Linked DNA regions of Homo sapiens. The protein of the gene in region 1 interacts with the protein of each later gene in a biochemical or structural test. Each region holds a gene or a part of one and is shown in the gene's direction. Other genes may lie near its edges.

Region 1 (3,751 bases):
ACCTTGTGATCTGCCCGCCTCGGTTTCCCAAAGTGCTGGGATTACAAGCATGAGCCATCGCATCTGGCCTATATTTTATATTATATATATATAATTTATGTAGATACGTGTTTTGTTTTCATTTCTGTGGGTAATTTGGAAATCCTCTCCCTTAACCCCTTAAAGAAGGCCTTTAGGTTCTCTAGTTAAAGGGTTCTAAGCTTCACATCCAAAAATCAAGTTTCCAGGCACTCAGAAGACAATTTCCAAATAAACCTTTTTTTCCTTTTTTTTTTTTTTTGAGACGTAGTCTCGCTCTGTTGCCCAGGCTGGAGTGCAGTGGCGTGATCTCGGCTCACGGCAGCCTCCGCGTCCCTGGTTCAAGCAATTCTCCTGCCTCAGCCTCCCAAGTAGCTGGGATTACAGGTATGCACCACCACACCCGGCTAATTTTTATATTTTTAGTAAAGATGGGGTTTCATCATGTTGGCCAAGTTGGTCTCGAACTCCTGGCCTCAGGTGATTTGCCCACCTCGGCCTCCCAAAGTGTTGGGATCACAGGCATGAGCCACCAAGCCGGGCGGAAACTTTTTTTATTGTAGAGATGAGGTCTCATTATATTGTCCAGGCTGCTCTCGAACTCCTAGCCTCAAGTAATCCTCCCACCTAGGCCTCCCAAAGTGCTGGGATTACAGGCATAAGCCACCGCACCGGTCCCCAAAGACTTTTGAAAAGTGTGGGCTCATTAGGAGAACTAATCCAGAAGGAAAAGAGATGGGAGTGAGTGCTTTAAATGGAAGAAGAAAATAATCTGCGGAGGGAAGGGAAAGTTAGAGAGGGCACCAGGCTTTTGATGGCTTATGGGACAAGTAGGGACCTAAGGCTCCACTTGCATATAGCACACCAGGATGTGGAGAACGTCGTAGGCGACTGTCCACTATGTACCTTGCCTTTGAGAGTAGTGGCAAGGGTCTCTTTGAGCAAGTCTGGAGTGGTAGAAGAAGCCATCCTAATGATGCAACCAACGTGGATTAAGGATCTGGTCTCTACCTCACTTTTTGAAGGAAGAAACACTTAATTGGCAATAATGACGGCGAAACAAAACAAACACAATTCAGAAAAAGCAGTAAAATATGTAAAAAGAGCTAAAATGCTGCTTAAGATTTCCCGTACCAACAATGTCAACCGTTTTAGAACCGACTGGAATATATGTAATACTGGAAATATATATACTGGAAACAACTTCTTGTGTTCCCTGATGTCTGGGACCCTTTTCTTTGCTAGACTTCAGATCTCTGATCTGAACCATCCCTCTTAGTTCAAGTACTCCAATCGCCTTCAGTGTTTCCACCAAGCCGTCCTTCCTCAATTTCTCCCTCCAGGTTTCCCTTCCCCAACTTTCCCCCTGCATCAGACTCTCCCTCAGCCTTCCTTTCTCCCTGTGCAGTCTGTCTCACTCCTGTCTTCCTCCCCAGGCGGTCTCAATTCTCTCTCCCTCCCCTTTCCGTGACCCTCTCGGCAGTCTTTTACTTCCTTACTTCGGTGACCGCCCCCCACCCCACTCCCCACAGCCTCCCTCCACTGCTCAGCCGTTGGAGAGGGCGTGGCCCCGCGAGTAACAGGTCTCCCGCCCCACACTCCGCGGGCCCGCGCGCAGACAAAGACATTCCACAGCTCCCGCCCCCTCCACGCCAGAAAGGGGAGGAGACACGTGTTCCGCTAGCGCCGAGTCACGTGGAAAACGAAACGAACGGAGCCCACTGCCTCCCGCGCATGCGCATCAAGCTCTGGCCTGGCGGGAGCGGAGGGAAAGCCAGAGTCGGGAGGCGACTTCTCGGACGCCGCGGCGGTGCGCAGGCGCCGTGGCCGGACTGGGGACTTTGTTCTCCGCGGAGAAACCCAAGGGCGGTGCCGGTGGCTGGCTGCGCACGCGCGCCGCCTCATTTCCGGTGCTCTCTCTCGCTGGGTCGCTCGGGTCGGCTTCGGTCGCTACCGCTCCCGCTCTGCCACCCCCGCCAACCGCCGCTCGGGCCTCCGTCGCTGCCGCGTCGCTTTCTCGCTCCTTGGATCGCACATCCTCCCAGATGCAGCGCCGGGACGACCCCGCCGCGCGCATGAGCCGGTCTTCGGGCCGTAGCGGCTCCATGGACCCCTCCGGTGCCCACCCCTCGGTGCGTCAGACGCCGTCTCGGCAGCCGCCGCTGCCTCACCGGTCCCGGGGAGGCGGAGGGGGATCCCGCGGGGGCGCCCGGGCCTCGCCCGCCACGCAGCCGCCACCGCTGCTGCCGCCCTCGGCCACGGGTCCCGACGCGACAGTGGGCGGGCCAGCGCCGACCCCGCTGCTGCCCCCCTCGGCCACAGCCTCGGTCAAGATGGAGCCAGAGAACAAGTACCTGCCCGAACTCATGGCCGAGAAGGACTCGCTCGACCCGTCCTTCACTCACGCCATGCAGCTGCTGACGGCAGGTAAGGGGGCCTCCCGTGTCCCTCTGGGTCGCCCGGCCATCCCGGGCATGAGTGGCCCTGGCTTTGTTCCTCTCGCTTCCCGCCCCCTCGGGACCGAGGCAGTCGGGAGTTCCGGTCTCATCCTCATTTTTGGGAGCCTGGATTCCACATTCCCACCTCAGCCCGGAGTGCGTGGGAGAATTTCTAGGCTGCAGTGGAGGCCCGAAGGCGACTTTGCGATCCCCTAGCGCTAATGTCTTGATGGATAGTGCTGAGCTCCCCGCCCCTTTCCCGACTCTTCCCTCCTCCCTCCTCTTGCGGCTGCCGGGCGCGCAGATTCTTCCAGAAATGAACCTTCATTTCCCCCTTTCCCTGAAGGGAAACCCTTTTTGATCGCGGGTGGCGATGAGCGCCTCGACCGAGGTGTAGGAGGTGAAGACAGCCAGAGCGGGGAGGGACCGTGGGAGGAAGGGCCGAGGTGAGGTGGGGTGAGGCTGGAATGCCCTGTCCAGTGCCTTGCTGTCGCTGGGGCCGAGCCGGACTTAGCGGTAACCGCAGCTTAAGTTGCTGGGAGGAAGGAGCGATTTATGTGGATCGGAGCTTGAGGTTTCCGAATCAGATTTCCGACTAAGGCTGATAAAATAAGAATTGCTACTGAGCCATTTTACACCGTGTGTTCACTGTCGTTGAAGGAGTGAAGTAACCCTAGAGACAGTGAAATGGGACGATAGGGACTCCCGCGTAGTTCACATGACGTTTCCCAACGAGATGGACAGAAATTGAGAGAAGTTGCATGATGCTTGTACTGAAAGGCTTGGCCTTTTTGTTGCTGTTTTTTACATTTTTGATTCAGTAGTGAAATAGATTAGAAATGAGAGTCTTTGTTCTGTAGGTTAGCGCTCTTTTCCTCATCAGCACTGGCCAATCACCTAGTCGCTCTGATTTTTCCCTAAAGCTGTCTGACTTTCGCTTCTAGTTAAAATATTATTTTAATATTTTTTATGATACCTAAATTTTACTAAGCAAGTAAAAATTCACATCCTTCAACACTGAATGAGTAGTTGGACTCTTTGGCAAGGTTAATATAATGGACAGTTCATTATGAAAATATTATCTCCCTCCCTTTGTTCTCTGTCTCCCAACACTGTAAGGTAAGGGATCTTTACCAGTGTGGTGTTCATCTTTTATGCTTTCTTAAGATAACTGTCAAAAACTGTTGATCCTTAAAAGTTACTTTTAATTTTCAGTCTCCCCTCACTGCTTAACTAAGAGAGTGCTCTTTATTTTTAACTTGGGCTTTCTGGATGTATTTTTTTTAAACCCAACT
Region 2 (3,751 bases), on another chromosome or scaffold:
GGGAGAGTCGCTTGAACCTGGGAGGCTGAGGTTGCAGTGAGCTGAGATCGCACCACTGCATTCCAGCCTGGGTGACAAAAGTGAAACTTTGTCTTAAAAAAAAAAAAGAAAAACGGGGATAAAAATTGGTCTTATCAATATCTAATATATTTGTCAGATACTCTCCCTAGGGGCTTAGGATTTAGCAGTACATCAAACAGACAAAAAAAAAAAAAACCCTCTGCTTTTGTAGAACCTTTCTTCTGGCAGGGGGTGGCTTGGGAGTAGATAAGGGAAAAATAAATCTATGAGAAATATTTTTTTTTCCTTTTTTTTTTTTTTTTTTTTTTTTTTTTTTTTTTTTTTTTTTTTTTGAGTCAGAGACATCCGCCACCACCCCCAGCTAATATGGCAGTTTGCTTTGTTGGTCTTTCCAGCTTTATTTTTTAGCTTTTTTTTTTTTTTTAATCATTTGATAGGAATGCTGCATCTATTTAAAATTTGAAAATGGGAACGCTGTAATTCTGAGGAGACGAGATAAAGGCAATATTTTGAATTGCATAGGGTAGGGAGGTTAAAGGAAATTTATATGACCTGATTTTATAAAATACCACATTTACAAATACCACCTTTTGAAACGGAGTCTCAAGAAAAGGGGCAAAAAATCTGTATGTTTATTATAGACGATTTAGACAATGAAGGTAAGCGAAAAGAAAAAATATTATATCATTATACCTTCTCTTAGAACTAACTGTATCATTGATTTTTTTTGGCAGGGGGAGGGGAGACAGAGTCTCTGTCACCCAGGCTGGTGTGCAGTGGCATGCTCTCAGCTCACTGCAACCTCTGCCTCCCAGTTCAAGCACTTCTCATGCCTCAGTCTCCTGAGTAGCTGGGGCGACAGGCATGTGCACCACCATGCCAGGCTAATTTTTGTATTTTTTATATTTTTAGTAGAGGTGGGTTTTTGTCATGTTGGCCAGGCTGGTCTCAAACTCCTGGCCTCAAGTGATCCACCCACCTTGGCCTCCCAAAGTGCTGAGATTACAGGTGTGACCCACCATGCCTCGCCCCATTGATGTTTTATTTTATTTATTTATTTATTTTTATTTATTTATTTATTTATTTTTGAGATGGAGTCTTGCTCTGTCGCCCAGGCTGAAGTGCAGAGTAGCTGGGACTACAGGCGCCCACCACCACGCCAGGCTTATGTTTTGTATTTTTAGTAGAGACGGGGTTTCACCGTGTTAGCTAGGATGGTCTCGATCACCTGACCTCGTGATCCTCCCGCCTCGGCCTCCCAAAGTGATTACAGGCATGAGCCATCGTGCCCAGCCGATATTTTTAAAAATCTGTTTGCTTTTTTTCATATTTAATTATGGCTATTTATTTATTTGAGACAGAGTCTCACTGTGTTGCCCAGGCTGCAGTGCAATGGTGCAATCTTGGCTCACTGCAAACTCTGACTCCCGGGTTGAAGCGATTCTCCTGCCTCAGCCTCCCAAGCAGCTGGGACTACAGTCGCCCACCGCCGCCGCCACCGCCCCCGGCTAATATGGCAGTTTGCTTTGTTGCTCTTTCCAGCTTTATTTTTTAGCTTTTTTTTTTTTTTTTTAAATCACTTGGGAGGAACACTGCATCTATTTAAAATTTGAAAACGGGAACACTGTAATTCTGAGACGCGATAAAGGCAATATTTTGAATTACATAGGATAGGGAGGTTAAAGGAAGTTTATATGACATAATTTTATAAAATACCGCATTTACAAAGCTTTATAGATTTTATTTATTTATTTATTTATTTATTTATTTTTTTGAGACGGAGTCTCCCTCTGTAGCCCAGGCTGGAGTGCAGTGGTGATCTCGGCTCACTGCAAGATCCGCCTCCCAGGTTCATGCCATTCTCCTATCTCAACCTTCCGAGTAGCTGAGACTACAGGCGCCCGCCACCACGTCTGGCTAATTTTTTGTATTTTTAGTAGAGACAGGGTTTCACCATGTTAGCCAGGATGGTCTCGATCTCCTGACCTTGTGATCCGCCCGCCTCAGCCTCCCAAAGTGCTGGGATTACAGGCTTGAGCCACCGCGCCTGGCCTGCTTTATAGATTTTTAACCAAGCCTTTTTGTTTATAATTGGTAAGAAATTTATGGCAAGAACTTAGAATGGTATTTACTTTCTTTTTTAAAGTGTGCATATTCTTTAGAACTGGGAAAAGGATCCTGACCTCCATTGTAGAGGACGCTTATCCTTATTTTATGTTTTCTATTCCTTTTGACCTTTAACCTTTGTTACAGGCAAAGAAGAGTAAGACCAAAATGCCATCTTTGGTAAAAAAGTGGCAGAGTATCCAGCGTGAGTTAGATGAAGAGGACAATTCTAGTTCCAGTGAAGAGGATCGGGAATCAACTGCACAGAAGCGAATTGAAGAGTGGAAACAGCAGCAGCTGGTTAGGTAAAAGAAAAGGAAACACAGATGAGATGGGGTTTTGGAGTAGGTTGAGACCTACTATGAGATGGAGTAGGTTGTGGTTGTTATAGATGCATTAGAATAGACATATTCTTAAAATCACAGCTTGTAAATTTATCTAAAGGTTTCTAATTTATAAACATGTTTAATTCCTTATAGAAATTATGGGCTAGCCTTTTTTCAAAATCAGAAACAACAGAGTTGTAATACTTTGTCCAGTTGATTGTTGGTCTTAGGCAAAGGCCTGTCTTAACTCTCAGTACATCATTTACTATCTAGATCCAGTGGACCCTTTTATACACACACACACACACACACACACACACACACACACACATACACACATAACATATTAACTTATTTTACAAATAATTTATAGAATTAGACCCTTTTATACACACACACATTATTGTACAAATGATTTACAGAATTAGAATAAAGTTTTTCCCCTGTCCCTATATTTCAGTCAAGCAGGGTAGAATACAGAGCTGCCTTCTCAATTGCACTTATTCTAGAACAGAAGTTAATGAGAGAGCACACCACACTAGGAACTAAATGAACCTCTTCTAGGTAAGAAAATCCTTCACTACCTTGCTTGACTAGAATAAAAGGATAGGGAGAACTGGCTTCAAGTAATTGCACCTCAGCCTCCCAGAGTGTTGGGAATACAAGTGTGAGCCACCACACTCAGGTCAGAAATATTTTTTATGATGAAAGCACATGTTGGGCTGGGCACGGTGGCTCACGCCTGTAATCCCAGCACTTTGGGAGGCCAAGGCGGGTGGATCACGAGGTCAGGAATTCGAGACCAGCCTGGCCAACATGGTGAAACCCCATCTCTACTAAAAATACAAAATTAGCTGGGCCTGGTGGCGAATGCCTGTAATCGCTGAGGCAGAAGAATTGTTTGAACCCGCGAGGCGGAGGTTGCAGTGAGCCAAGACCGTGCTATTGCACTCCAGCCTGGACGACAGAGCAAGACTCCATCTCAAAAAAAAAAAAAAAAAACATGTTGGGTGGGCACTGTGGCTCACACCTGTAGTCCTAGATGCTTGGGAGGCTGAGGCAAGAAGATGGCTTTCTCAAAAATTCTAGAAATTTTAAAGACTTTAGACACAGCAAGTACAATTTTTTATTTCATATTTTCCTTGTTTTGAAGGTATACATTCTGAAATGGGCAGCATTCTTTGACTGCAACTCACTGTTCATCAATTGTCAGTGTATAACCTAGAATATAGCTGTCTATTACTGATGCCAGATTTCAAATTAATCTCTGATAGGTTCTAGCTTAGTTTTTATTAAAG

The links.
Region 2: the proteins of KHDRBS1 (region 1) and FNBP4 form a complex in vitro, tested with the Homo sapiens proteins (2 studies listed by BioGRID and IntAct, with this or other methods).

What each region holds. Positions count from the first base shown.
Region 1 is NC_000001.11:32,011,933-32,015,683, forward strand, and holds the start of KHDRBS1 (KH domain-containing, RNA-binding, signal transduction-associated protein 1), read left to right. Parts: upstream 1-1,935; 5' UTR 1,936-2,063; coding exon 2,064-2,445; intron 2,446-3,751. UniProt on the Homo sapiens protein: Recruited and tyrosine phosphorylated by several receptor systems, for example the T-cell, leptin and insulin receptors. Once phosphorylated, functions as an adapter protein in signal transduction cascades by binding to SH2 and SH3 domain-containing proteins.
Region 2 is NC_000011.10:47,718,610-47,722,360, reverse strand, and holds part of FNBP4 (formin-binding protein 4), read left to right. Parts: intron 1-2,274; coding exon 2,275-2,432; intron 2,433-3,751.